3 separate regions of the Homo sapiens genome follow, and regions 2 and 3 are each linked to region 1. Evidence: fine-mapped expression QTL. Tissue or cell type: thyroid. Region 1 holds a variant in brackets; each other region holds the start of a gene. All regions are shown on one strand. Distances are between the middles of the regions. Region 1 overlaps LINC02827 (long intergenic non-protein coding RNA 2827). Region 2 holds the start of LINC02827 (long intergenic non-protein coding RNA 2827). Region 3 holds the start of LINC02417 (long intergenic non-protein coding RNA 2417).

What was found. PIP is the estimated chance that this variant, and not a neighbour inherited with it, causes the effect.
Region 2: it holds the start of LINC02827, and the variant in region 1 is fine-mapped to the expression of LINC02827 in thyroid (GTEx, PIP 0.96).
Region 3: LINC02417 starts here. The variant in region 1 is fine-mapped to the expression of LINC02417 in thyroid (GTEx, PIP 0.97).

Annotation. Positions count from the first base shown.
Region 1 is chr12:3,322,815-3,332,768 of GRCh38, forward strand. LINC02827 (long intergenic non-protein coding RNA 2827) reads left to right here. Exons shown (of 5, transcript NR_187483.1): 5 at 535-9,954. All of the region lies in intron 1 of LOC100128253 (a long non-coding RNA gene), which reads right to left. It also overlaps the pseudogene LOC100418939. Among named protein-coding and RNA genes, the nearest start is that of LINC02827, 27 kb to the left of the region's middle. RefSeq lists an enhancer at 3,735-4,234. The variant T/C (reference allele first, on the strand shown) is at 4,779.
Region 2 is chr12:3,294,286-3,304,239 of GRCh38, forward strand. LINC02827 (long intergenic non-protein coding RNA 2827) reads left to right here and starts at 6,078. Exons shown (of 5, transcript NR_187483.1): 1 at 6,078-6,128; 2 at 8,820-8,984. LOC100128253 (a long non-coding RNA gene) reads right to left here. Exons shown (of 12, transcript NR_148995.1): 6 at 9,497-9,652; 7 at 9,052-9,118; 8 at 6,561-6,707; 9 at 6,297-6,429; 10 at 5,696-6,156; 11 at 5,033-5,251; 12 at 4,229-4,366. RefSeq lists an enhancer at 5,658-5,877 and a silencer at 6,478-6,772.
Region 3 is chr12:3,362,598-3,372,551 of GRCh38, forward strand. It overlaps LINC02417 (long intergenic non-protein coding RNA 2417), which reads left to right and starts at 5,511. Exons shown (of 3, transcript NR_146865.1): 1 at 5,511-5,527; 2 at 5,668-5,828; 3 at 8,688-9,004. It overlaps LOC100128253 (a long non-coding RNA gene), which reads right to left and starts at 3,525. Exons shown (of 12, transcript NR_148995.1): 1 at 3,462-3,525. RefSeq lists enhancers at 2,473-3,025, 3,026-3,576.

The sequences.
Region 1 (9,954 bases):
AGCCCTGGGTGATGGGAAGATGGAGGTTCATTAAAGCACTTTTTAAAATTTTTGCATATCTTTGAAAATTGCCATGATAAAATCTGGAAGGAGCAGGAAGAGAAACAGGAAGAGAAAGGATGAAAGAGAGGGAGAGGAGGACGAGGGGAAAAAAGAGGAGGAGGAGGAGGAGGAGGAAGAGAAGGCAGAGGAAAAGGGAGAAGGAGGAGAGGAAGGAGAAGGGAAGGGAGAAGGGGAAGGAGAGGAGGGAGAAGAAGGAAGGGGCAGAGGAGGAGGAGAGGGAGGAGGAGAGACAGATGAGAGGGAGCTACTACTGCAGCTGCCGAGGCTGGCCTCCTGGCCTGTGTCCTAAGATCCTGGAGAACACCAGGCTGGCGAGCAGCCACCCCCTCTCTGGCTGCCCCATGGCCTCAGCCGCTTCCCACTCCAGGACTGGAGCCCTTCTTCCTTGCTGGGGACCTCACTGGGAAATAGGGTGGTAGTGCAGGGTCCCCCTCCCTGCAGAGCATGGAGAGGCAGCCCTTCTGCTCCTAGGAGATGGTGCTGTTGCCCAGGAAGCCGGTCACCATGACGAGAGTACCCGCTCAGATGAGGATGCAGGCGGAGGCGGTGAAGGTGCTGGAGGCCAGGATGCTGAGGTAGCTGCTCCTCTCCACCAGGGTCCAGATGCCCATGGCCAGGACAGCTGCCCCCCTGACCTGCAGGAGACCACCAGGTTGGAGCAGGGGGTGGCGGGGGCCTCAGGAGCTGCCATTCCTTGAGTGCCCGCTGGGTACCAGGCACTTCTCGTGCATTGTCTTATTCAATTTAGGCCTCCTAAGAGCCTGTGAGAACAGTGTGGTGGCCTAGCTTTACAGATGAGGAAACGGAGGCTGAGAGAGGTTTGCAGGCTTGTCCAAGGTCACACATGTAAGCGAGCTGCAGATTTTGAATCTGGGTCTGACTTCTGATTCTGTGCATCTTACTATGGTTCCTACTGCATATGAGGCGGGGAGAAATGACTTCAGTTTTGGGGATGACTAATATACCTGAGTCCCTTCGCCTCCCCTCCCCTCAGAGCGCTCCCTCCCTCTGTCCACGTTTCCCTGATGGATGTGGAGGTGCCATTTTGAGCACCTCCCCTTGTTCAATCCTTATATTTGCCCATTGGGGAAGCACGGCTGGGCCCCTTATCCCTCCCTGTTCTACAGAGGAAGGAACTGAGGCCCATGGAGGAGAGGTAAATGGCCCGAGTTAGGGGCAGGGCCAGGACCAGGACTCAGAGCCCAGGGCCTGCTTGCTCAGTCTCGCTGCCTCCATGATGGAAGGGCCACTGTGCTGGACAAGTTGGAGCTCCCTGGGACCACAGGAGGAGGGAGGAGAGCCTTCTTTGCTGTCTGACTCCCTTTCAGTCCTGAGAGGGGGCAGGGACGGGACACTGCTGATTTGCAGGTCTGGGGGATGCCTTCTTGGAAATAGAGTACCTGGGAAATGTAGCTGGGGTGGTGGGGCTTGACTGTTCTTTCCTGCCATGAAGCTGAGGAGCCTTTTAGTGACTGTTATCCTCAGCAGAGCATAGTGGGTGGGTGCAAGTGTCCTCAAGGTGCCAGATGGGGGCTGTTTGGAGTGTTTTCCCAGGATTTGGGTCCTCTGGGACCTCTGACCATCTCTGTCATTTGCTCCTGGGAAGGTGGACTTCTGTCTCCCAGTCTCTCTGCCCGCCATTTAGGGACGGGTCCATTTCCTCTGATGGTCAGTAGATGCTTCCTCAAGGGGTCTTGGGTGTAGCCAAAGCTAGAGAAGCCCTCCCGGGCTCTGTTCACATCCCCTGATGCTTTTCCCTGCAAGTTGTCTCCCGTCTGCCCCAGGAAGACTCTCTGTATAACCTAACCTGTCACTTCCCAGTTCTCTGTTCCGGGGAGTCGCAGACCTTGGCTGAGTAAATGGAAGGTGGTTCTTAGCAATGAACAGGCACCTACATTACTCAACTCGCAAGTATTTTACCATTTTGCCATTTTCTCTTCTGAGCTTTGCAACAGCTCTGTGAGGATGGGGCCGGGCAGGAGGGGCCAGGCTATCCCTGTCTTGCAGATAAGAAAATTGAGGCTTGGAGAGAATAAGAATGTGCCCAAGATGACACCATCAGAGGGTCAGAATTGAGGTGCAAACCCAGTTATTTGAGGGCAAATCCAGGCCTCTGTCCTTGGATCCCCCAGAGTAGGCTGGGCCTGCTTCTCTCTTACTTCTACGTTTTTAATAGACATGATTTCTTCAAAGTGCCATTTTATCTCCATAGGTACCTCCAGACACCACCCAGGCTGCAGCAAATGGAATGGGAGAGGCTAACACACCATAATTTTTCAATTCCATGATGCCCATTTTTTCTCACATTTTAACGTCTCTAAAATTGGGGCACATCTTATGATTGATGGCATCTTACAATTACACTTGGCAGTACTTTTTCTTGGTGATACAAAAAAACAACAGTGTATCTTACAACTGATAGCTTAGATTCAGTGAAATCCTAGAATACAACAGGTTTGAAAATTCTCTGTGGGTGAGTGTTATCTGTGGCCCATACAACCTCCATGACCAGTGAGGGATTTCCTGAGTCTGGGTTCCAGCAAAATATCCTGGACAGAATTCTTTTTGACCCTCTACAGCATGCCTGGAAGGCTTGGGCACGGGTCCCAACTGTGTATAACTAGCTCCGTGACCTAAAGAGAGTCCCTGAACCTCTCCAGACCTCAGTTTCTTCACCTCTCGAAGAAGGGAGTGAGTTATATTAGACCAGTAGTTCCCAGCCTGTAACTACCAAGGACCGTTTGATTATTTTTTCCCATGGGTTTTATGTTTTGAGGGCTTTTGCCTATCAACGTGCATTAATTAAGTAATAATTCACTTCTCATTTTTTATTAATCAAAGGCACATATAGTGCCAGGAAGAGATTCTGAACAGCATGAGACAGTCAACTTGACCACACTGAGTTGATCTAACTCCAGCAAAAGGCCAAGAATCTTGGCTTTTCATGAGAATAGCCTCTTTATAGAAATATGCACATTATCTGTGATCTGTTAGGCTTCTTAAGCCTGTCCCTCAAACCAGAGTGGGGGCTGAGCATATGGCTCTGGGGCCACCAAAAGACATATGTTTGGACTGGTCTGGGGACCATCTGTTGGGAGACACAGAACCTCACTGAAAGCCTGATGAAAAGCTTTGCATCCTTTGCCCAGAGAAATGGTCATTCACACAAAACAATACCCTTGGGGCCAGGGGCTGAAGTCTATTTTGCACTACCTAATGACCTGTGGCCTTTATGGTCTGTAGGCCTCCTGCACCCCTATGGTGCCCTAAGACCTGGCTGTACAATCACCTGGGGAGCTTTGAAAAACCCAGGCCCCCCTGCAGGCCCATCCGTGTCTGTGGGAGTGGGACCCAGCCATGAATTTTTTATGAAGTTCCTGGGTGATCCCAGCTGAGAACCATTGCCCAGAATTAACGAATGGGGTCCAGGTGTCCTGCCCTCCTCTTCCCAGTTGGTGACGCTGTGCTGAGCCTCGCAGAACACAGCGGCTTCCCGGTCGCTCAGTCCCAGGAGGGGCCCCTTGAAGCTCCAGGTTCCCTCCCCTGGGAGGAGTTGCCTGGAGGGCTACTGAGATTTGTTCAGGACCTGAACCCCATCCTTTCCTTCCGTGTGTTTGTTAGGGTGTTTGCTTTGGCAGAAGCTTTAAGGTAGAAAGTGGGGTAATCCTGAGGAACAGAATTTTCATCTAAAGGGGCAAAAATCAGATTATGCAAGAAAGGAAAAAACCATGGCTCCCAGGGGAGTCGGAGGCTATGAGAAATGCAGCCCCGGAGAGGAGCAGTGTGGATCTGGCCGACGGAGGCCTGCTCTCTGCCAGGGCACCTGCAGGCCACACAAATGGGGCTGGGATCTTGCAAAGCTTGCAAAGTGACGCCGGATCCTGGGCCACGGGGCAGGGTCTGGAAGGGGTCTGGAGGGACACATTTCCCTGATTCAGGTCTAGAGAACAACAAATCCACATGCATTGCTGTCCAGAAGAAATCAGGAGATGAGTCTGGGTCAACGGGGCCTGGTTATACTTAGCCAGGGGTCTGCAGGAGCCAGAGTGCTGCAAGTCCTCCGGGAAGCTCCTGCCGGGGACGTGGTCAGCTCTTTAGAAAGCAAGCTTTCCTCTGAGCAAGGGAAGGAAAACTGCTCACTGTTGGAATGGGTCACCAGAGGGTGCCACGGGAGGGCGGAAGTCAGCAGGTCTGCATGCCAGTCCTGGCCGTGCCCTTGACTGGGTATGTGACTGTGGACAGACAGTTGGCCTCTCAAAGCCTTAGTTTCTTCATCTGCAAATTGGGGGCACTGGATGGGAATATCTCTGAGGTCCCTTCCACATGGTTAAACTGTCCCTGTTAGTATTGGGCAACAGTGTTCTGCCAAGACACCACCAGCAAGATGCTTCTGGACCAGCGGCTCATGGCTGTCACTCAAACCACTTGGAAACTGCCCAGTTCAACAGAAAGCAGTGGAAGACTGGTGGGGCAGGGAGAGCGCTGACCCCAGTGAGCGGTTTTAACAACCATTGGCGTAGAGTTGATTCAACAGTATTTGGCTCTTTGTAGAAACTGGGTTGGTTTTCTGTGGAGTATTAACTGCATTTCTCAAAACCATAGCCTGTGGCCGATTAGCCAGCAAACCCTGCATAGGGTGAAGTCAGGCAATGAGGACGTGAGCAGACCAGTAAGGGCAGAGCAGGTCACCCATGCCGTGTAATTTTAGGAACTTC[T/C]CATTTATAGGAGAGAAACATTGCCAAAGTGTGGCCCACGTCATCATGGGGAGAAGCGTTAGCTTGAACTGCCACACATGCCTGGGGCTGGATAGAAATAAGGCAGCAGGCTTGAAGGAAAGCAGGCAGTGGCGTAACAGTAAATGTAGGATTTTTCTTTGTCCTGCTAGCTAGGGCTTCTGTGTTGACAGCTGGGGGGAGGATGGGGTGGGGCAGGAGCCAGGACCATGGGACGCCCAGTAAAGAAGGATCCCCCGGGCAGGGGAGTTCTCTACCTTCGGTGCTGGGGTTGGGTGGGGGAGCCCATGGCATGGGAGGCAGAAATGCACTGGCTGACAGTATAGTTCATTTGTTTGATGTTTGCTACTAGGAACCAAGCATCACGCTGGACTGAAAAGGTTTTTGGCCTGGACAGGAGTTCCCCCACTGGGAACCACACACATCATCCGTGTCTCTCCTTCCAGGTCGGTCTGGTCAATGGCACCATCACCCACCCACCCTAGACCAGACTAGACACCTCAGGGTCATTATTGACTCCTTCCTCTCCGCTCAATGACAGCCAGTTCTCCTCTGCTCTCAAACCTGTCTCCATCTCCCCACCGTCAGCTCCCAGCTCCTGCTCTACCTGCAGGCTGGCAGGCTGTGCCCCAAGGCACTCCCTGCTGAGCAATCCCCACAGGCTCCAACAGCCAGAGCCCCAAGCCCAGACTCTTTTGCATGGCCTCAGGGCTCTTACGTGTCTGGCCTTAACCTATTTTTGGCTTTATCTTCTGCTACTTTCCTTCCTCCGTACCTGGGCTTTAATCACCATGAACAAAGTAGTTGCTTTTCTTGTAAACATTGTAGATACCCATTAACTATGGCAGCAATAGTAGAGTGGTAAAGAGGGTGAACTCTGGGGTGAAGTACCGGTGTCCGAGTCCAAGCCCCTCTGTTTACGGCTGTGTGGATTTGGATAGGTTACCAAACTCTGGGCCTCTGAGAGGCTCTCTCCTGTCCCTTCCCAACCTGCTCACATTGTTCTCTTTGCCGTTCCTTTTCCACTGAATTCCTACTCACCCATGAAGCCCCATCTCCAGTGCGGCACCTGCTCTGACTCTGCTGGGCAGGTGAGCTTGTCCCTCTCGTGCACACCTGTGGCACTGCTCCCCTCACAGCAGCCCTCGGCCCGGGGGTGGGAGACTCCCCCGACTCCCCTCAGAACCCCGGGCCCAGCAAACCACCTGGCACCTGGCAGCCGCCCACATGAGCATGGGACTCCACGAACGGGGCTTTGTAGGGGGCTTTGGAAATAGCGGCATCTGCTCCCCTCACCCGTCTGTCTGCTGAGCTCCTGAGGCAACAACGAGTATCCCCCTTCCCTGTTTTATGGCCGTTTTTATTTTTGGAGGGGCAGTCTGCAAAGTGCCAGCAGTCCCCGAGGGCAATGGACTTTCCTCCAGGTCATTAGGAAGAAGCCCCTGGAAAGGATCTTCATGCCAGACCAATGCTTGGCTATTCTCGTTCTTTCTTTCAACCCACACCCACTGTGCACTTGCTATGAGGACGCCAGGCTCTCAGGCCATAGTGGGGTCCACACCTGTCACTTCACCTGCCCTCATGTCGCAGGCCAGTGACTAGATGGGAAGGCCCAGCAATCACCAGGGTGATTTCCATTAGAAAGAGAGGAGAATGGGTCTAATTTCAGGGAGGGGGGCTGGCAAACACAGCCTGGGGGCTCAGGAGAGGACTGGGAGGCCATGTCTGAGCAAGGCTCGGTTGCTTGTAAAGAATGGTACCCCGTTCCCACATCAGAAGAGTCAGCTGAACCCCGGGCTGCAGTCCCAATAGTGCACTGCTGAGCCTGGCGCTCACCTGCAGGGTAGATGGCACCTCAGTGCCACACCTGAGCCTCTGAGCTCTCCAGGAGGGCATAGGCAGGCATGTATCAGGCACCACTGCTCACCCTGCTCGTGAGTGACGTTTTTCTGAGCACCAGGCAAGCACTTCTCCCCGGCTCTGTCCATGCTGCCATTGCCTTGGTTTGACTGAATCTTCAAGGACAGGCTTGTCATGCTAAGGGCCATTTTCCACTTTGAGGCATTCTTTTCTTGGTTCTCTGGTTTTAAAGAGCACTTGATAAAATAAATCAGAGCACTGCTTCCCCCTCTGTCTTCCCCATCCCATCTACCCTTATAACAAGAGCAGAATCTCATGGGGCATACCGAGGGGTGGAGCTGGAAAGGAACATAAAATCACCTTCCAAACCCAGCTCAGTATCCAAGGGAAACCTTCCTTGGAGCTGTCTCTCCCCACTCCTCAGCAAACCATTCTGTCCTCTGTACCAGCTCCATGTCTTGCCCATGTTTTTGTAATTATACTCATCACTGCCTATTTGTTTTATTTGCTACCTTGTGTGTCCTCTTTTAGCCTCTTGATAAAACCTTATTCATCTTGGTGTCTCCAATGGAGTCCTACATGTGGGAGGGAAGAAAGAAGGAAGAAAGGAAGGGAGGGAGGAAGGAAGGGAGGAGGGAATCGAGTTCAACCCCTTTTATATTCTGGAGGGAGAAACTAAGGCCCAGAGAAAAGTGACTTTTCCACAGTCACACAACTAGCCAGGGGAAGCATGGAGCTAGAACTCAAGAATCCTAATGCTCAGTTTAGTGTCCATTTTACCAATTGGGCTGCTGACCCACACGAAGCTGCTTGGCCCAGGAAGCAAGTTGTGCGGTGCCTGGGCTACAGTAGATCTAGAGTCCCTGAGCTGCAGATGGGCAGCTAGGAGGGGTGACCACAGCTTCATCCTGACTTGTCTCACTCACCATGGCCCCGAGCAGACCAAATGCACATCCCTCTTGATATGGTTTGGCTGTGTCCCCACCCAAATCTCATCTTGAATTGTAGTTCCCATAATCCCCACATGTCGTGGGTGGGACCTGGTGGGAGGTAATTGAATCATGGGGGCGGGTCCCCCATGCTGTTCTCATGAGTGAGTTCTCATGAGATCTGATGGTTTTGTAAGGGGCTTTCCCCCCTTTGCTTGGCACTTCTCTCTCTCCTGCCACCTTGTTTGCTTCCCCTTCCACCATGATTGTAAGTTTCCTGAGGCCTCACCAGCCATGCTGAACCATGAGTCAGTTAAACCTCTCTCCTTTATAAATAACCCAGTCTTGTGTATTTCTTCATAGCAGCATGAGAATGGACTAATACACCCCTCAGCCATGGCCCTGTCCCCCAGCAGATCCTGACAGCCAAGAGGGGTAGAGGTGCCCCGAAAGCCGTGGGGAGTCCCATGCCATTCAGCATCTCAAGAAGCGGTGCAGCAGAGAAACCAGCTACGAGGTCCCTCACCTGTTTTTCCTCAAATGGCAAGCCCAGGAAGGGGGCAGAGGCCACGTTCAGTGGGGTGATGCTGTCCGAGGTGAAGGGCTTTCTAGCTCTGGCAAAGAGGTGAGCAGAAGGCCCCACCAGGGCCTCCCTAGATCCTGAAGTGATGCTCCCAAGCCACCTCATTCCCCTGCCAGGCTCGGTCCTCCATCTTCTCTGCCACCTGTCTTGGTCCCATGCCTCCTTTAAGGGCTCCCAAGCTTCCCTGTAGGCTGAGCCCTCCTGGCGGCCTGGGAAGGAGCAAGGTCTCCGCTTCAGGAGCAGAGGCAGCCTCTCCAGTCACGGAGTGCTTCCCATTGCCTGGCAGAGCTCCTGGGAGGCTGGAAAAGTTTTGATTATGAACACAGCCAAGCAGCTAATTAAAATAATAAATTAGAGAAAAACATTGCAGGGGTAATGGTAGCTGCAGGGAGCCGTGGAGGAAAAGGGAGGGGAAAGAAACACATCTTCTAGGTGGCCGCCTAGGAAAGCCTGGGCCACATTTTCTTTTTAGGGCCATGAAAGAGGCATGAAAGTGTGGCATTTTGGTTCCTCCTCTGCTCAGCAGGATCATCCCATAATGATTATGGCTTAACTGAAACCCTAGGTGGGGTGGGGCGGTGGGAGTCAGAGATAGGGTGACGGGGAAGAATTGCCACCTGAATCCTGCTTCGTGTTTTGCAAACTTTGGAATGTGACCCATTTGGGTGATAAAATAAATTTAGTGGGTTGTAACCTGCACTAAAAAAAGTGAGCTAAAATAGTAGAGAAAATATCAGCATGCATCTGTATTAGGATTTTCTAGATGGGTAGAACTAATAGAATCTACGTATATATGAAAGGGTGTTTATTAAGGAGAATCGACTCACAGGATCACAAGGTAAAGTCCCACAATAGGTCGTCTGCAAGTTGAGGAGCAAGGAAGCCAGTGGTGGATCAGTCCGAGTCCCGAAACCTCAAAAGTAGGGAAGCCGACATTGCAGACTTCAGGCTGTGTCCAAAGGCCCAAAAGCCCCTGGCAAACTACTGGTGTAAGTCCAAGTGTCCAAAAGCTGAAGAACTTGGAGTCTCATGTTCGAGGGCAGGAAGCATCCAGCATGGAAGAAAGATGAAGGCCAGAAGACTCAGCAAGTCAAGTCCTTCCATGTTCTTCTGCCTGTTTTATTCTAGCCATGTTGGCTGCTGATTAGACGGTGCCCACCCACATTGAGGGTGGGTCTGCCTGCCCCAGTCCACTGACTCAAATGTTAATCTCCTTTGGCAACACCCTCACAGACGCACCCAGGAAAAATACTTCACATCCTTCAATCCAATCAAGTTGACACTCAGTGTTAACCATCACAGCATCATATACCGTAAGGGTAAGTTTAGTTTTCTGAATGTTTCGTGTGAGCATTTCTTATGCTTCCATGCATATCATGAGTCACCATCAGAAAAGTCTCAAAGTCAGCACTATGGACAGAGAAAGTCATTAAAGAGACCAGGCATGCCCATCAGTCTAATCATAATAGTTATGCATAATAGCTAAGCACTGAGTATGTGGCACAAATTGTGCTATTTTTCTAAATAGTAACCTCTAATTCTTACAGGTATTGGTATTCTCATGTAGCATATGAAAAAACTGAGGCTCAGTGAGATTAAGTGATTTGCCTAATGTCTTAGTTCAAGCTGCTGTAACAAAATGCCACAGTCTGGGTGGCTTAAACACCAGAAATTAATTGTCTCACAGTTCTGCAGGCTGGGAAGTCCAAGATCAAGGTGATCTGTTCTGGGTGGGGCTCTCTTCCTGGCTGGCCAATGGCCGCCTTCTTGCGGTGTTCTCACCTGG
Region 2 (9,954 bases), 29 kb before region 1:
ACCATGGCCCCCCTGCCCCCAGGGCCACATTGGGCCCTTCTGGCTGTCAGGGCCTTTGGCCGTGCACAAGGTGAACTTCCCAAAACAGAAAGTAGTGTCCACCCCAGAGCCCCGGCAGCAGCAGGCGCTTCGTATAGCATGGAGAAAGAAGGCAGAGAGGGGTGTCGCCTGAGGGGGAGGTGGTCAACACACCCCCAGGCGTCCCCTCCCTGCCCAGGCTGGCTCTGGCAGGGGGCGTGACCTGAGGTTTTCTCCAACCCCCAGTGATCTCCACACGGGCATGAGATTCCACACCCTGTGTGAAGGCTCCGAGGGCTGAGGGCCAGTCCCTGCTCTCACTGCGGGGCCAGCATTGGCACCTGAGACGATGGGCCGGGCTGTTGCCAGGCTCGCTTGCTGCCTGAGCCCCTGCTCCAGGGGGGCCCGGCTGTCAGCCTGAAATAAGCTAGGCTTCTGCACCACGCACATGTGCAGGGCAGCTGGCACCTGGCCCAGATGCCAGATTCCGTTCAACCTGGTGGGAGGGGGTGCCGAAGCTGCTGCTATCGGATGGTGCCCTGAGGGACACTTTGTTTCTGAACCTCAGCCTGAGCACTTGTTACAGAGATGGAGAACCATGGGACGCGGAGGACAGGGGGCTCCCAGCTCAGCTTTGCTTCTTTCTACCCGGCTGGGGTGGCAAGACAACAGCCATTATTGCTGACCAGCAAGCCTCTTAACCCTGCTGAGCCTCAATTTCCTCACCTGTAAAATGGGGGAAATACCTTTTTGTTGGAGTAACTGCAAGCGAATGTACTGACGGCAAGTAGCACGTTCTAAGTGCACAGCAGGCCCTCAGTAAGTACAAGGCATTCGCCAGACACCCCGCAGGTGGCCCTGCCTGGAGGGCTCCCGGGGTTGAGGCTAGACTGTCGGGGAGTGTGGCGGGGGAAAGAGAGGAATGGGCACACACACTTCATCCCCTCCCCCAAGGCCAGGTTCCATCCCTGTCCACTCCCTGCCTCCCACCAACACTCGTCATGCGGGGGACACAGGGACGGACGTACCCTTCTGTCTTGGTGTCCGCCCCTTGGGGAATGGTGGCATGGCGTGTGCAGGGTGTGGACGTGCTGGCCTGAGCTGTGTGGGATCCCAGTACCTGTTGCTTCTCTGCCCAGGCCCTGGTGGGCAGGAGGCTTTTGCCCTATACAGGACTGGTGATGACTTTCCACAGGCATGTCCTCTCTCTCCAAGGAACTCAAGACTGCTGGCCTCCAAGCAGGGGCCCGGGAGGACCTGCCCTGGGCATCCATCTCCACCCTGGGCAGCAGGAGGGCTACACCCAGCTGGGGCTGCATCCTGGGCTCTGGACTCCAGCCATTGTGCATTCCTAGGCAGAACCTGCCCTGTCTTGGGCCTCTGTTTCCTCCAACCCTGTCTCATCTCCCAGGCTGCTGGCCTGGACATGGAGGTCGTATTTCCAAGAAGCTCTGGGCTGTCCTACCACTTTCTGCAGCTTGGACCAGCCAATCTCCCCAACGGAAATCTGGGCTGGACAACCGCCAGTGCAGGAATCACAGCTAATCCTGCCTCCAGTCAGGCTGGCCCAACCCAACACATGGGGCTGGGGCCGACGGGGCAGGCTCTCCTGGGCTGCCACCTTTGTCTCCCATCCCTGCCAGGGCAGACAGGTCAAACCATAGCCCTCCTACCCACTGCTGCCTCTCTTGGTGCCCCACCAGGAAGAACAAGACCCTGGCCCAGCACGCTCCCTCTTTCTCAGCCCTCAGTCTGTAGGTCTTGTCAGTTGATATGCAGCACTTCAGAGCTCTGGGGAGTCACGATCAGTTTTCGATGATCTGCACGAAGCCCAGCTTGGAGGGCAGCAAGGATAATCACGTCACACTGTTTCTCTTGGCCGTGGAGCAGTCATTTCTGGGAAAGCTGGTTTTCCTTTTAATGAGTTCACATTGGCCACCCCAGGCCTTTCTAGGCAGAGGAGATAAACCAGCCCAGCCTCTCGGTAGCCCCTGGAGAATCCTCACAGTAGAGGCGGCAATCTGCCCCGAGAGGCTGGCTTTCTCTCTGTCCACGTGGGCACTTCCCGCTCTGAGGATACAGTTTCTGGACAGTTTAGGGCTGTGTTTGTGACCACAGTGAGGGGCCTTCAGGTCACTCCTGTGTACGGGAGCAAGCACACCCCTCCTCAGGGCCAGCCCAGGTCAGCAAGGGCTGTGCTCAGCAGGCTGGGAGCTGGAACATGTGGAGAGACCAGGTGTGACCTCTCCCAGCCTCGGCCTTCGCATCACAAGGCGCTGTGCTTTAGGGGGAAGAGGGCCCACCTCTGGGGAGAAGTGCAGGACCTGGGAGGTATGGAGGCCAGGCGTGGGGTTCCCGTGTTATGCTCAAGGTGCCCACTTGTAATAGCCATTTAGGGGGGTACCTATGGTTGTCGCAAAAGTTGATACCTACCCTTCATGAGACTGCCAGCATGAATACTCTGTATTTCATAGGATTTCCTCTCTGTTCTCCCTTAGTATTTGGGAAAGTTCTTCCTGAAAACTCCCTGCCTAATTCAAGACAGATGCAAGACAGGACCAAAGGAAGGGACTCTATCCAGCCTGGGACGGGCGGAAAAAGGGAAGGAGAGCGAGACCCTCTGGAAGCAACACGGTGGTGGCCCCAGGGTTGGGGAGAGGGGCCCCAGGAAAAGTGAGGTTCGGGCAGATCCCCTGTATTCAGAGCTGCCCCTTCTCAGCCCTCCAACTCTGCAGGGCCTGTGATTTAGTCCACGCTGGGATGAGTTTTACACCCACCAACATTAAGAGCTGAAGATAGTTTTGAAACCAGGCATGCCTCAGCTGGGCGAAGTGGCTCACATCTGTAACCCCAGTACTATAGGAGGCCAGGGTGGGAGGATGGCTTGAGCCCAGGAATTTGAGGCCAGCCTGGGCAACATAGGGAGACCCCATCTCTACAAAAAGTTTAAAAAATTAGCCAGGTGTGGTGGTGCCTGCCTATCATCCCAGCTGGTCAGCAGGCTGAGCTGGGAGGATCGCTTGAGCCTGGGAGGTCAAGGCTGCAGTGAGCCCTGGTCACGCCACTACCCTCCAGCCTGGATGACAGAGCAAGACCCTGCCTCAAAAACAAAAACAAAAAACCCACTGGCATTCCTGAGAATCAGGCCCCAGACCAGGAGATCCCCGAGGGGCATATTACTATAGAGGCCGGGGCTTGGAGCCAGGGTCTCCCAGAGGGGTTTCTCTTGGGAAAGCCACTAGGCAGGGTGCAGGGCTCTGCTCCTGGTGCAGCATGTGCTAGTGTGGCCAGCATACCCCACATCCCTGCCCTGGCAGCTCCACCCAGCCTGTGACTGCCCTGCCTCTGGCCTCCCCACCTCCAGGCCCTGCAGGAAGGAGTGAGGCCAGCAGGACACGGCTTTCCAGGTGAGGCAGTGTGGGGAGTAGGCAGGTTGAAGGGCTAGCTAGGTCATCTAGGGGAAGAGCCACTCCTACCTGTCCCACCCCATGCATTTCCCAGAGGGGACAGCAAAGCGAGGGCTTCTGAGCACTGGTGGGGATCCTGCCCAGAATGCAGGCATCCCAGGGGACCCGGGTTTTCAGCCTTGTCCCAGGTTTGGGAGCTGGGAGGGAGCAGAGGGCCCAAATATCACCCTCCTGTGGTCCCCGGCACCCCCGTGCCTGGTGAGGGTCCTTCTCCTGCCAAGGCTCTGGCTGTGAGGGCTCAGAAATGGAGGGGAGGGGGCTGAGGGTCCCCGCCTAGGTGGGGAGCCATGGTCTAAGGCACTTGGTGCATTTGCAGGGGCTGGACACAGAGGAGGGGGCATCTGTGGCCCTAGTGGAGCTGGTGCTAATGCTGCAGGCCTGGCAGGTGGATGTGGCGCCTGTCCTTCGAAGGGCAGTTGGCAGGGGACGCAGTTGACCATGAGTAAAAATGTCGCTGGAGCCTCGGTGCAAGCAGCAGATGAGACCCATCCTGCAGGTGGAGAGGGCAAAGGAGCAAAGAGAGATCAGAACTCCCTGAGGCTGTCAGCCATCAGGGCTCTGGAGCAGTGCTGCTCATGCCCAGTGCACATGTGAGTCCCCTGGGGCCTGGAGAAAGGGCAGCTTCCCGCTTAGGTTGGGGTGGGGCCTGCGGTTCCACACTTCTAACAAGCTCCCAGGTGATGCCCGTGAAAGTGGGGGAGCCGCACTCCAAGAACTACTGTCCAAGAGCAGGGTGTCACACACTTTAATGGACATAAACCACCCGGGGACCCCCTTATTACAAGTTTGCAGGCCTGGGTGGGGGCCTAAGGGTCTTCGTTCCTAACAAGCTCCCCGTCGATGCTGTGGGTCTGTGGTCCTAGGGCTTCTCCAGAAATGGCCTAGTTTAATGAGATCCCGAGTGAGTATTTCTGCTCCCTCATCAGAGCTGTCTGAAGCCGCCTTCTTCTCTGGGAAACGGCCTGTATTTTGCTGCCCTCAGACTCCGGAACAAAACTCAGGTCCGTTATGGATGCTCTGCCATGTGCAAGAGCCATGGGGGAAACGGAGACTCTGGGAGGAGCCCCTAGAGCTGTCATCAGCTCTGACAGTGAGCACAGAAGGCAGCGCCAAGCCCAGCCGCAGGAGTCCCGCCTGCCAGCCCCTCTGTCGGCAACCAGGGGCCGAACAGGAAGGGGCTGGAGCATCCTACCCAAAGCACGCGCAGGCTTGGGAAGGTCGCTGTCCGCCCCGTCTCACTTCCCATTTCTAAAACACAGAGGACCTTTATTCTCCCACCTTGCTCTTCATGGACACCCCCTGCCCCCCGCCACCTTCTTCTTCCTCTCCTCCCTCCCACTCAAGGATGCACTGGGATAATGTCATCATGATCCTGATAATGATGATGACCTGTTGTCAGGTCTCGACTCTGTCTGCAGGAGAGGGGCACTGGGCTAGAGCAGCCCCGTGAATGTCCCGTGCCACCTGGGGTGACAGTAGATTCCCCTAAGTATAGAAACAACACCCCGACTTTCCCCAATGTTTCCAGCTGCTGCTGCCGCCCTGACCTTGCGAATCTGGATGTAGAGGGCAGGCTGGTGGAGGTGCCTGTGGGCCGTACCCACTTGTCTCTCAGCAAGGCTAGTGAAGAAGGTAGCTTCTTCCCCTCCTCTCTCCTCTCCATCCCTCCAAACCTGGAGGGCAGCAGGGAGTGTGACCACTGCCTTCAGCTTGGAGACTCGGTGCTGAGGGCTCTGTTAATCCACCTCGGGGCCTCAGGGTCACAGCTGAAATGTGGCTTAGGAGGTTATTTCATGTCCCACCAGCTTAAGCAAGTGGCTGTCACAGCCCCTCCACCCACGTAGGTGTTATGCGGCATGCCCTCTTCCCCTGTCCCCACCTCATGGGTTGATGATTTTCCTGTGCACTTTCTGGATCTTTCTGATCCATGCTAAGGGGGAGGCCAGAAGGGAGCTGTTAGGCCAGCACAGATTTGTGCTGTAAGCAAAATTCACGTCTCGTACAGTGTACATCTGATGCTGGGGGAGGACAGGAGGAGCTAGGCTCTCAAGAGACACACTTCTGCATGAGATGTGTGTTCCCAGGGTGCTCCCAGGAGAGGTCCAATAAGGGTGGAGGTGTATGGGCCAGACTCATCAATGTGGGTCCACATGCACACACACACGCGCACACCCCCACCCTGAATCGTGCAGAGGGCACAGGATACTGACCCGCCGGATCCCTGAGTAAGCATCAGCATCTCTCTCCTGACAGAAGACGCGAAGAAACCAGCACGGAATGGCTCCAGGCAGCCAGCAGGGGGCGAGCAGAGACAAGACAGGACAAGTTCCCTGCAGGTGCCGGAGAAGGCCAACCGGGTTGGGCCGGGCCCTGGGGCCCAGCTGCATGGTGTCTGGTGCTTTTTTTCGGCAGCTGCCTGGGTGTGGCACTCGGCCACACGTGGGACATTTTTTTTTTAACAGGGAAGTCGTCATGCCTTCAGCTTCTTATGAGGTTTCTGAGTCAGCTCCTGGCTGTCATCAGAGAACACGAAGGAGGGGCCAGGGAAGTTCCAGGAAGTCATTCCAAAGTGATTGCTTGGTTTCCCTTTTCACGACCTGCAGATCCCAACACTCCAGGATGGTGCAGGACATCAGTCTCAAGGTAATTGGTCACAGAGGTGAGAACCTTACTGAAAAATCAGAATGTGAACCCTGGAAGGTTCCTGAAAGATGAGCTAGACGGTTTTGAAACTGTATTGGGAATCCCAAGTGTAGCTCAAGGCTACTGGTCTTCGAGGTACCAGGCTGGGTATGTCGGGGAGGTAGGTGCCTGGTGTCTGCCTGCTGGCGACGATGACTGCGAGCCCTTTCTCAAGACTTCGGCCCACCTGGGTCTTGGGCAATGTAGTGCCCAGCATCGGCCGCGAGAGGGAGCTCTAACCTGAGACTTGGCGGCCGCAGGGCTGGCTCAGTGGACCGCAGGGGAGAAAACAGGGCAAGGGGTTGAGCGCCATCAGGAGCCATTCCACAGTGACCATGGAGGAGCAGAGACTGCATGGTGGGGGTTGTGAGTGGGGAGAAAGCGTCCACTCACCTGAAAGCCCAACGACCTGGTCTCCTCGGCATCAGACTTACACAGCAGTTCCATCCACCTTGACCTTAGGGCTCAGGGCATCTGCAGCCCTACTGCCGGCCCTCGGCCTCACTGCCCTCATCTGGCAGCTTCTATGTGCTCTCGGGGCTGGAGAGGTCAGGAAGAAATAGACAGAGTGGGCCAGGCTTGGTCGGAGTCCATACAGAGCAGGCCCCCTCTGCACGGGGAGTCACAGATTTCTGGAAACCTCAGCTGAGCCTGGTGCAGTGGCACAGAGCAGCCCTGCCCCAGTTCCCAGTGGTGACTCCTCTGGGGTTCAGCACATGGGACAGAAGACCTGCCCTGGGGAGGTGCAAAAGAGCGGCAATGCTAACGCCACCTGGGCTCCCTGGCCCTGCAGGTGAGTGAGGATGAAGGGGAGCAGGCTGGTCTGGCCAGGGAGAAACTGGGGCTTTTTTTTTTTTTTTTTTTTTTTTGAGAGACAGTGTGCCCTTGCAGAGAGAATACAAATGATGGTGTCACATGTTGAGCACCTGCTATCTGCTCAGCAGTGAGCCAGACACTTCCATGGGTGTTGCTAATTCCCATCACCAGCTACCAGATGAGGTCCGGTCAGCCCCATTTCACAAATCAGTGACTGAGGCTCAGAGATGAAATAAATGGCCCTAGGTCACACAACTTGCAGGTGGCAGAACCAAGGTGAGTGTCCCTCCAAAGGCTAGAGACCCTCCTCCCAGCATGTTAGGCTGTAGCTGGACCCTCCAGGCCCACAGACCATGTGGGTAGCTGGCACCATCATCTGAAAGGACCCTATGCTGGGAGTCTCTCCAAGCCAGCCAAGGCCACCATCCCTTGCTTCTCTTTCCCACAGACCTCTGAGTCGGGGTAGGGAGTTTGCGAAAGCGAAGGGCCAATATCAGGAGATCGGGGCGCCATTTCAGGGGGTGAGACCCTGGGCAAGTTGCCTCTCTGGGTCTCAACTTTCTGATCTGTAAAGTGAGAACGCTACTCGTTGTCTGGCCTGGGTCTCAGGTTGTTGTATGGACCCAGTGAGAGGAAGTATCGGAAATCCTCTGAAGTCTGCGGACAGCTGGATAAAGGCTTACGGAGGCTTTCATTTGTGCCATGTGCTGTAAGTGGGTCACAGGCATCACCTTATTCTTATTTAGACCTTAGGAGGTTGAAGAAATTATTCACATTTTGCAGATGAAGGGTTGAGGGATAGGGAAGTTAAGTAGCTCGAGGTCACACAGGAGCAAAGCCAGGACTGGACTCAGGTCTTCTGAGGCCTAAGCACTACTCTTCCTCTTCCCTAGACGGTGCTCATAGCACTGGACGGGGAAGGGCTGGGTAGGACAGCAGGACTGCTGGGCCCCTTCTAGAAGGACAGCCTACACTTGCGGGGGCTCTCACCTCTGAGGATTCCTTCCTGGCTCCCCTCCCTTGGACCCTTGACTACAGCAGCCTGAGAGAGTGACCTTGACTTCCTGGGTGGCAGCAGGGGGACTGGGTGGAAGGGAGAAATGGGAGCCAAGGGCATTGCTTATCCTCAGGGAGAGAGCTGGATGTACACAGGGGAATGTGTGTGCACAAGCACACGCACACGCACGCGCACGCACACACACGCACACGCGCACTTATATACAGTTGTTCTGGATTCCAAAATCCACTGATGCTCAAGTCCCTGATATAAAATGGTGCAGTATTTGCATGTGACGTCTGCACATCCTCCCACATTCTTTAAATCATCTCTAGATTACTTGTAATTCCTAATACAATCCACATGCTATGTAAATCGTTGTCACGCTGTATTGTTTAGGGGGTAATGACAAGGATGTTCAGTGCAGACATAACCATCCTTTTTGTTAGTACTTTTATTCCATGGTTGGTTGAATCCAAGGATACAGAACCTGTGGATATGGAGGGCTGATGGTACACACACACACACACACCCACACACACACACACACACACCCACAGACACAGACACACACACACAGACACAGACGCAGACACACACAGGAATGAATGCAGATATGTACACACTCACACATGCACAAGCACCCTAAACACACACAGTGCATACCACCCCACCCACATAGACCCGGGAACATGGGGACCCCCACGGACCCACACACACCACGGCAGGCTTGCACACTGACCCCCACATGCACACACTCAAGGTGCATGCCCGTACCTGAGCCCACATCCACACTCCTCCCAGGCCCCTGTTCCTGACAAGTTAATGTTGTCCCTCAGGCATCTTCCTTCATGTTCTCTGGGGGAGAGACTGACTGTGGGAATCAGCCTTGGTTGCAAAGGGAAGCTGAGAGAAGAGAGCAGCGCAGGGCACGGACATGCCAGCCCAGTTACTGGAGATATCTGCCGCTGGAGACGGGTTCAGAGCCTAGTTTAATATCCCGAGTGAGTATTTCCTCCTAATCTCCCAACTGCAACATACCTTCCTCCTAATCTCCCAACTGCAACTCACCTCCAGGCAGGCCACCCTGATGCCCATCGCCCCCATGAGTAGCAGGTAGCTTGGTGAGGCAGCCTCCCTGCAAGGGAAGGGCAGGTGTCATGGCTTTGGCTCAGAAGCAGGCACAGGTGGGGAGGAAGGGCTGGCCGTCCCGGTGCATATGGCAGAGGCAGAGGGTGGACCAGAGGACTCATGGGCTGGACCTGGCCTTGAGTGGCTCACAGGTTTCGTGGGTGGCCCCAGGAGCATGCCATGGTGCCCTGGACTCTCTCAGCAGGAGCTGCTTGTCCCAGGGCTTTGTAGAGCGTCTGAGGGGCCTGGCACTGTGGGCTCATGGCCAAGAATCATGTGTGCTCTGCTATTCCCACACCCATCTGCCTGACCCCAGCCCTTTGGGGGCTCCTGGAGGCCAGGCTGGGGCCCTTTCCTTGTCCCCAGCTTGCGCTGGGGCACTTACCACCCCCTTGCAGATGTTGGAGGGGTGGGCCGGCTGGCTGCAGAGCGCCACCACTGCCTTGCAGCCGCTGTCGGGCACTGGTGGCTCTCACCTCCCACGACAGCAGGTACGTGCTGCGCTGCCAGTCGCTGAGCTATTGCATCCGTAGCACTTGAACTGCAGGGGGAGGCAGAGGCTGGAGGTGAGAAGCCTGTGTGGGGTTCCAGGGCCGACGACACAGGATTCAAATACCCAACCCCTCTTTGCTCTCCCTGCGATTTCTGCCTTCCCTGTTTGAGCAGAGAGCTGGTCTCTGGGGGCCAGCACTGCCCGCAGGACACCTATCTGCTACCTGCAGTCACCCAGGTCCTTTAAGGAGATTATGCTGGGTGTCCTGGGGGCAGGGTAGGTCTGTGAGGTGGGCAAGATGGAGGGGGGGGTCCCCAGAGAGGGGGGCTGTGTACTGCTGCCTGACAGAA
Region 3 (9,954 bases), 40 kb after region 1:
CCGAGGTCACACCACTGCACTCCAGCCTGGGCGACAGAGTGAGACTCTGTCAAAAAAAAAAAAAAGAAAAGAAGAAAAGGGAGAGGTAATCTAGGTTCTGTGCCCCAAACCTGGGCACAGTGTTGGACACAGCAGTTGCCCTACCATTTCCAAGTGTATTTATAGAAAAAAACAGCACGAGACAATGTTTTACATGGAGACGAGCTTGGAAACCCTAGGATGCATGGCTGCTGTAAATACAGGCCAAGGCTGGTGCACCACGTGGCTGTCCTGCAGGCTCAGCACTCGCCCAGAGAGCAGAGCTCCCCTGCACTGCCAACTACTCAAGCAAGACAATGCTGAGTGGGCATCTCCTGGGGATGAGGCACATCTGGGCAGGCTGCCTGGGAACATACCCAACAGAGGACGACGACAAACACAGTCACCTTAAATAAGGAGCTATCAAATATCCATGTGTGGTTTCTCCACCTTGCAGATGTTTTGTGTTTTTTCCCTGTCCAGGGCCTGTCTCTCCCATGGATCAGAGTTCCCACATAGCCCTTGCTACCGTATTGTATGCAAAATCGTTTTCATATTAACTCCAACCAAAAATTCAGGAAATTAAATCAGTTGCATAAAAATTGCTGTGGATCAATGCCATGGCCAAACCGAAATGAGCCGAGGAACAACCACTCTGTGTGCGTGAATCCTGCCTGTGACCCTCACAGAAGGCCAAGTGTGCATTACTTCCAGGTGCCGTACAACTGTTTCAACTTGGAGCTGAAAAGATGAAAAGACCCCTTGAAGTCTTCTGGTGCAATGGCTTTCTAGTTTTATTTTAGTGGGAGAACACTTTCTTCAAAGGAAATCCTACCTGGAAGCCGGCATGTAACTTAGATGAACCCCAAGCTGCTGGTGTGAGGGATCCAGGGCCATGGGGCTTGCTCTCCCCGTCCAAAGCTCCTAGGAGCACAGTTTGAAAAACAGGCATGCATCATCCCCAGCCCCTTGTTAACCTCTTTGTTCACTCATTCACACAACCATATTTCTTGAGCACCTACTGTGTCTAGGTGCTGGTGAGCCAGCAGGTGACAGGACAAACGCAGTCTCCGCTTTCATTAAGCTCACACTGTAGTAGGACGTGGCAAAGGGAAGTTCAGAAAGGGTGGCCCGTGCCACAGAGGAAACAGATCACGGAAGTGATGTGAACGTGACGAGGAGGTGGCCACTTTAGATGGGGATAAGGACAGGCCTCTCTGAGGAAGTGAAACACAAGCTGAGATCAGAATGACAATCTGGAAAGATGCCCTGTTTTGGACCAATGAGGAAGCAGACCCAGTGAGGCAAAGCAACCTTCCCCAGGACATGGCGGGCAGGGGCACAGCTGGGACCTGACTTGGGTTTCCAGCATCCTCCACCCAGGGCTCTTCGCTTTCACAGACATTACTAAACAGCTACCACATACAAAGATGTCTCAGTGGGCCCTGTGCAATGGTTCACACCTGTAATCCCAGCACTTTGGAAGGCTGAGGGAGGTGGATCGCCCGAGGTCAAGAGTTAGAGACCAGCCTGGCCAACATGGTGAAACTCTTTCTCTACTAAAAATACAAAAAGTAGCCAGGTGTGGTGGCGGGCGCCTGTAATCCCACTCCATCTCAAAAAAAAAAAAAAAATTATCAGTGACAGGTGACATCCAAGGGCAGATAAACCACCAAACCATGTCCTGCTGTTTGGTGCTGTCTGGCGTGACTCTTCCCTCCCCTCCCCTCCCCTCCTCAGCTGGGGCCAGGGCTGGCTCTGGATCTGAAGGCTCTATACCGCAAAAGACAGAGGCCTGCAGTTGACACCCTAGATCTGTGACCTTGGCTGGGAACGCTTCTTCATCTCCTATCTCTCCGGCTGCAAACAGGAGGGTGTTCCTTACTGCTTCATTTGGCATAAAGGTAAAAGCAAGATGGTGGGCATAAGCCCACTGGTTCATCTGGAGGATGGCTCTCTGGAAAGGCAAAGTGCTCCAGGGCGATTTAAAGACAGCAAAGCCAGTTTTCCTCCTGTGCTATAGAAGGCATTCATACAAGAACTATAAGAAACTACACAGGTCTATACATATTTTACACGCAAGAGTCAGACACTCCTGCTGTGCTGAATATGACAGGAAGCAGCCTGCAAATGGCTCGCCTACTATCCACAAACCAAACAGCTCCAGGCCACCCAAGCACTCCCCAGACCACCAATTCTGCACCTGTGGCCCAGCAGTGCCCCTGGCCCTGGGAACCTTACTGCTGCCAAAGCACTTTCAGGCATTGACCAATGGGAGCTTCCAGCCTCCTTGGGAGATAAGCCAGTGATTATCAGTCCCATTTTGCACACAGAGTAACTGAGCCCCAGACGACCTTTCCAGGCAACAAAGCGAATGACACAGTGACAACCACTAAGTTCCAATTCAAATCCAGGTCTCCAGACTCCAGCTGCTGCTTTCCACTACAAGCTGCCCCCAAATCGAACACACCCTGGCCTAATACCACCCTCATTCTCCTGCCACCCCACCCTCCGCCTGCATACACCCGATGCCCCAGAGTGCACTTAGGACTTTTTTCAGAAGCCGCCTCTTCTCACAACCCCACCTCAGAATACTTGCCACACACTGCAGACCCCTGGGACACTATTCCTGTACACACAGCAGCTGAGACCTATGTTAAGATGCTGTCCGGCCGAACCCAATTGAGCCGCCTCCCTTTCACACTTTCCAGCCAATGCACACGTTAACACTGCACATATCGCCTAGGAAAGCTATACACCCCAAAACCTCCAGACCCTCCTCCTTTCATAGGAGCCAGCCAGCTGCATGTGCAGGGATGGGCACACAAACAGGTGACAGGGCCTGCATAATCATGTTGCCACAAATGCACAGACGTGCCCAGGGAACACAGGACCTCCCTGTACAGGCAGCCTGACCCACTGGGAACAACGTGCACCACACACAGCAGGTGCCTGCATTTAGCAGACTCTGTGTTGCGTGGGGCAGGCAGCCACGACCTGTCCACATCTAGCTAAGCCGAGTTTGAGCCTGTCGGCTATGCTTGTGCACAAGAGGCAGCTACTGGAATTCAGGGTGGGCGAAGAGAGTGACATTTTGAAGAGGGACAGCCATGTCCCGGGAGGGCACACGGCCCCCAGAGGCCCAGAGCTCTTCCCAAGGCACAAGTGCAGAAGGCGGACTCAGGCGTGTGGTTAAGGACCCCCTGCTGCGGGCCCCTGCACACACCAACGCGTGCTCCCACGCGCCGCGACTCCCCCGGGATGCCTGCCCCACCCCTATCCGCAGCCAGCGTCCCCCTGCCCGCCGGCCCCGCCACGGTCCATCAGGGACTGCGGGCGGCGGAGGTGGCGGCGCCTTGCCGGGACCCCCAGCCTCCCTCCCCCGCCCCCGGCGCCCCACCCCACGCGGGCGCGCTTCTCCCGCCGCAGCCGCCCGCGCTCACCTGGCCCGGACACGGGCTCCGCCACGCGGTGATGGAAGCTGAGCCTAGAGAGGCGGAGAGCGGCGGCTCGCAGGGCCACCCAGCGGCACACGGCCCGCGCCTCGGCCCGCCCCTTCCTTGCCGGCCGGGGGAGTGTCCGCGCGCCTCCAGCCCGCCCCGCGCCCCGCTGCGGTGCCCAGTGCCCGCCGTCCTCACCTGGCCAGCGGGACGCGCCCGGGAACCCCGCACGCGGGCGGGCCGCCTCTTTGTTAGCAAGTTTGCCTTTCTGTGATTCAGAGCACGCGGAGCGAATTAAGTGGAGTGAGGGGTACTGTGCGACTGTCTGCGGGAAACCTGCGGGGAGCGCGGGAAGGGATGGACTTGATGAGCCGCGGCGCAGCGGCTTTCAAACCTCCCCGCGCTCCGCAGCCCCCAGCCCCCGCCCTACCCGCCCTCTCAGATCCCTCTGTCTCCTGCCTAGGTCGGCCCCTGGGAGAGGTTGGCTCCTGGGGGTTCCCAGGGACTTTAGGGACAAGGTTTGATGACATAGAGCTTCCCCACGCCCCCTTCCTCCCCTCCCCTCATCCTCCGCCCCGCGACTCCCATCACTGCCCTGTCCCTCTCAGGGTCCTGGGGACCATCGGCCCTGCATTCCCTGGGCTCAGGGAGAATCAAGATTCTTCCTAATCTGGAGCAAAAAGAGTAGACGGTAGGGCCCAGCTGTCCCTGCCTGCACCCAGTGGAGGTGCAAAGCTGTCCCTAAGTGGGTCTGTCCTAGCAGTGGGGCGTGCATTGTGGGTTATTTCCCAGAGCAACGGTGGCCTTGTGCTTATCCAACCATGTTCTTTTGAAACTTGACTGCAGCGAGCCGGGTTATCCATATACCAGGTTGCTAGGTCAGGGAGGCCGCTACTGGGGGGCAGGGAACGCGAAGCACGCCACTGTGCCCCAGAGCACCAGTGCTCTCAATGCCGCAGCTGACCGCTGGGAAAGGCTTCGCACAGGGCCATGCGGGAAGGAGATGACAGCCACAGTCCCCTGAGATGAAGACCTGAATGCAGAAGCTGCCGCGAAGGAGTCCCCAGAGCTTGCTGTGCGCGGTGCAGGAGGAGGAGTGTGCTGGGGGTGAGGGGGTAAAAACCTGAAGTCTGGAGGAGACCTGGAGTGATGTGAGGTTGAGTTTCGTGTGGGGCAAGCCGGGTTTGAGAAGCAGGCCACCTTCTTCCAGGGGCACACATCCAGCAAATGCAGTGGGAATGACCTGTGGTTCTTAGGAGAGAGGCTGAGGCAAGAGATGCGATTTTTGGAATCATCTGGAAAGAAGTTGGGCTGACAAGAGAAGAAATGGAGCGAGAGGGTAGAAAAGATAGAGAGAACAGGGCTGAAGACAGAAGCTGTCTAAGGAGGGGAAGGAGCCCATGAGAGAAACAATGTGGGAGGGTCGGGACTGTGCAGAGTGAAAGAACTCAGGAGAAGAGGGATGTTCAGTGGGGGCCTGGGCTACAGAGACACCAGGAAGGAGGTGCCCAAGAAAACAGGTTTAGATTTGGAAATCAGGAGATCTCTGGGGGCTTTCAAGAGAATTATTTGAGTGGTGGGTTGTGTAGACAAGATTGCCACTCCTTGGGGGGCATCAGGATCCTGGATCCAGTTGGTTGATCCAGGGACACAAAGGTTCATTTCTTTGATTTCCTTCACGGGGACTCCGAAGGGCCTCCCCAGAGCCACAGCTTCCAGAGGGATCTGACGAGGCCTCTGTGGAAAGCAACGCAGTTCAAGTTCAGTCTCTGCCTAATCCTGTTTTCCTCACTCTCTCAAGGTGAGTGAGGTCTATGGGGGTAAGCCCCCCCGCCTCCCCGTAGACCTCCTGGAATGCCTGGAACAGCTCAGCAACCTGGGCACAGGTGGCTTGAGACAACCTAGCCATTCGGGCCTGCTGCCAGAGTGAACGCCACAGGGAGGCCTGCCGGGTCTGGGGAGCATGAGCTGGTCAGGCCCCCAGTAGACCCCTTGCAGGCTGATCTCCATCTCCATGCAGAGTCTGTATCCTAGAAATCCAACCTGAGATCCTGCGGCACCGAGAAAGGGTGAGTGAAACAGAGAAAAGGTGGGATGGAGGGAAGAACAGAGGTGGGAACCACTCAGCAGGAGCAAGAAGGGGTGATGGTGGGAGACAGGCAGGAAGGAGTAGGCGTGTGATTTGATGCCTCTCCCCTCCACCTCCAAGGAAGCTGTTTCAAGAGATAGGAATTGTCAGAAAAAGCCGGAGAAGGTGGTGTTAAAGGAAAACATTGAGAATGGGGAGTGAAGACGAGGGTTTTTCGTAGCAGAAGATGGATCTTCGAAAGCCAGGAGGCAGAGGAGAGCAACGCTGTCGGTGAGATAAAGGTGAAGGGAAGCTGATATTCCCTGAAGTTAGTAATATTAAAACAGTACTGAAGAAAGAGAAAGTTGGAAAATGGTCTAGAGGGACCTTTTAGCAACATGAGAGGGCGAGGGATGAATGGAGCTCTGGACCAGGATATTCCCTCTGCAGCACCATCCCTGGGAACGTCAGACGTCTGGGGTAGTGAACCAACAAAAATAGAATATGCAATTAACAATTTCCCAGGAATCATGTTTACACACGTAAAAAAAAAGAGAAATAGGTGAAAGTAATTTCAATGATGTATTTTATTTAACACAATATATTTTAGATATGTTTTAAATAAAATATATCATTAAAATTGATGTGTCAATATACAAAATTAATAATGAGCCGTACATTTTTTTCCTTCTAAGTCTTCCAACTCTGGTGTGTATTTTACCTGTATTGCACATCTAAGTTCAGACACTAAATTTTCTTTGGAAATACCCGATCTGTACTTAGATTTCATAACATTGATGGTTGAAGAAGCTCATTTACAAACCTAAATTGCCCCATATATACCTATGCTTTCTAATAACAGAATAAAATGATCAGTCTTTAAGTTAATTAAAATGAAATGAAATAAAAAACCCCGCTCTTCAGTTGCATGGAGCACCTCTCCAGTGTTCAGTGGCCCCACATGTGGCTAGTGGCTACTAGATCGGACCACACAGGTCTAGAATTGGAATTCTGAGACTTTTGGATTTTGGCTTTTATTTTGTCCTGATTTTCTGTGAAGGAATGGGCTTGCCTGCCCCCAGTGCTGTACCACTAAAAAGATCCTCATCTGTTCCATCTCATTTCACAAAACTCACTTGAAGAAGACGAGGGAGAAGTCTGAGAGTCCATCTATGAATAGGGAAATGGGGCTTTGGCTTGGACTAGAAATGGTATGAAGGAGATGAGATATGAGTTGGAAGTATCCCGTTTTGATTTTTGTTCTATGTTCATAAGAGGAACGAGGTTTATTTGTCAGGTTGGGTGCCCCAAAGAGCGAACCGAGAGTGCGCTGTGATAATGCACGGGGCAACTCTTTCTTGCACAAACTCTCATCTTAGTAGTTTCCGTTGAGCTCTGGGCACTGGCTGCGTCACAAACAGGTGGACGCAGCTGCTATATCTAGGCCTCATTTTCTGCATCTGCAAACTGGGAGAGTAGTTCCTTATTTGGAAAAATAGGAGGGACCAGGGAAATCCCAGATTTGGAGACGGGTGCCTCTCAGCCAGGCCTGTAGCTCATCTGCTGTCCCTAGCTGGGTGCCAGCAGCTTCTGCATTCAGTCCACAGTCTGGTACCATTTGCCTGCCTTTATATCTGATGGGAGAGATCTGTCATGGGATGCAGGAGTGAGGGACGTTCTAGATACTCCTTTAGAAATGTAAAAATAATAATACTTAGGCATCCTTGCTTTTATCTGAAATGGCCTACATCTCTTGCTACTTGGAGGTTCAGGATAGATCTTGTGAGACCTCCTGCATGCCAGCACAGGGCCTGATAGCCTTACCATGCAGCAGCAGTATCTATAACCATCCCTAGAAGTGGAGTCACAGAAAATACCATGGTAATTGTGGCTTTGTTTTGAGGATGGTTACCACACACACACACACACACACACACACACACACACGTGCATGGCATGGAGGAGCCTGACCTGTTATTGTTGGCATCCCCAGGATACATGGCACATTAGCTTAGTGTTCAGGTTGTACATAAACCCTCAAGGTCAGGAGCTGTAACACTTGGATTTCTCCGTCCCCTGGGCATAAGCCTGTCTTTCAAAACAATTTCTGGCCACTGCCTAGAAGAGTTGCAAGATAACAAAATTTCCCTTGACAACCTCTACTCCTGCCTCCCTGACATCCCTGCTTGGTTAAGCTGCTGTCCTGATGTGGCCTTAATAAAAGTACTCTGTGTATAGACTCTTGACAGAGCCATTCCTGGGAAAAACAGCTCCGTTCTTGGAGACAGGAAACAATGCCCTCAGCATACAGATCAGAGACAGCTTGTCTGACTTGGCCCGCTTCCCCATCTTTAAAATGGGGAGGTCTTCCTGCCTCGGCTTACCAAAGCGCTGGGATTACACATGAGCCATGTGCCCAGGAGAGTCGCTTGAGCCCAGGAGTTCGACACCAGGCGGGGAAACACAGGGAGACCTCGTCTTTACCAAAACCAAATATATACATAAAATAAAATAAAGTAAAATACAATAAAATACAATAAAAAATGGGGAGAAACTCCTCCTAGGATTCTTTTTACAGTCTTAGAGAATGGAAACTGGCCTTGGTTTCTTCATCCATGTGAAAAATAGAGCTAAAAAGCCTCTCGTCAGCACCTTTCTCTCTTCTAGCAGGACTGAGGAATGACCAGAGGTTAAATGTTGATGAGCTGAATTAGCTTCAGTTCAATCTGCATTTGACTAGGAACTTGATGACTGAGGCTGCTCATTTTTGCAACAATACCTGGGGTAGAGAAATGACTGTAGAATTGAACCTCACAATCTCAGGTGTAATTCCCATGAGAAAGATATTACACCAGAAATAGGAGGTTTCCAGCTGTTCTCAGGCATGCTTTCAATGACACTAAGAACATCAGTTGCACTAATTGGTGCTTGAAATAATTATTGATCTTCATCAGGAGTGTCAAAAGCATTGCTCAAATGTCCAACTGCTTGTCATGCTCTCTTGGCATTCTACGCGAAGGACTTCACAGACTGTTTCTTTCCCAGGAGAGCATTAGCTAAGGCAAAACATAGAAAAACACATCTAGGATACAGATAACATAAGTACAGACAGCTGAGCAAATATATAAATAACACCCGAAATGACACTTAAATATTTACAGCTGGAGATTTCTGCTACGTGCAGCACATACTGCTAATCCTCTCTCATCTCCAGGAAGTTTTCAAAAACCTGCTTCTGTAACTAGTGGACAGGTCTTCTGGATCCAAGGTCACCTGCTGGGGAGAAAGAGAAGCCTTTGGATAAACATCACAAGTTTTCCTGGAACATGGATTTTATTTAAGATTTTTTGGAAAGAAGGGAATAAGGTTTTTACCTTTGTAATGTTTTTACAAATATTTTCAAAAGTGTAACATGTATATGTGCTCATTTTAGAAAATTTGATCAGTATAAAATATTAAAGAAGAAAGTAAAAGCTCATTTGGAATCTTATCTGTTGGAAGGAATCACTGTCTTGCTATATGTTGGTGAATATCCTTTTGATGATGTGTATGTGTGTCAGTGTGTGTTTGTAACTTGAATTTTTAAAGTTTGAGAATATATTCTAGTCGTCTTTTTATGTCAATGGATATAAGAATATATTACATCATTTTTGATGCAATATTTTGATATACCATGATTTGTTTAATCAATCCCCTATTAATGAATATTTAGGATGGTTTTAATTTTTAAAATATTTTACAATGTGGTTATGAAACATTCTTTCATATATATACTTGCCTACTTATTCAACTATTTCTTCAGGATACATTCAGAAACGGAGCCACAGAAAATATTTCTTTTGGTGGATGGACGCAAACACACACATACATATGTATAGGTGCATATGTACATACATTCACACATACATGCTACATACGTGTGTGCGTGTGTGTATATATACATAGAGGGAGAAAGAGAGAGAGGAGAGTCAGAAAATATATTTTAAACTTAAATATAGCCATTATCTCTTGAGAAGGGACTTGTATTGGGGATGTATTCAAAGAGGAATTTGACCACATTTGTAATGTTTAAGTTTTTTCACAAGTAGAAAATATATGTGTAACTTAAAGTTAGTCAAAATTAAAGGTAACACTAACAGAAAAGGACAAACTAAAATAGTTATCAACCAACAGTCACATATCATTGGAAATTATTTGCTTTCTTCTGCTGAAAAAAAGGTAACTATTAAAAGAATACAAATAGGATATATCAACGTTAAACTGCCAAAAGAAAAGAAAAGGAACCAGAACGCCGAAAGTCTTGATTAATCCAGCAAAAGTAAGGAGTGGAAAAAAAGAAAAGAAACAACAAGAAAGCACAGCAAATAAAAAGTACAAGGATATGAAAAAGTAAGTCCAAATATACCAATATTTAGAATTAATACGATT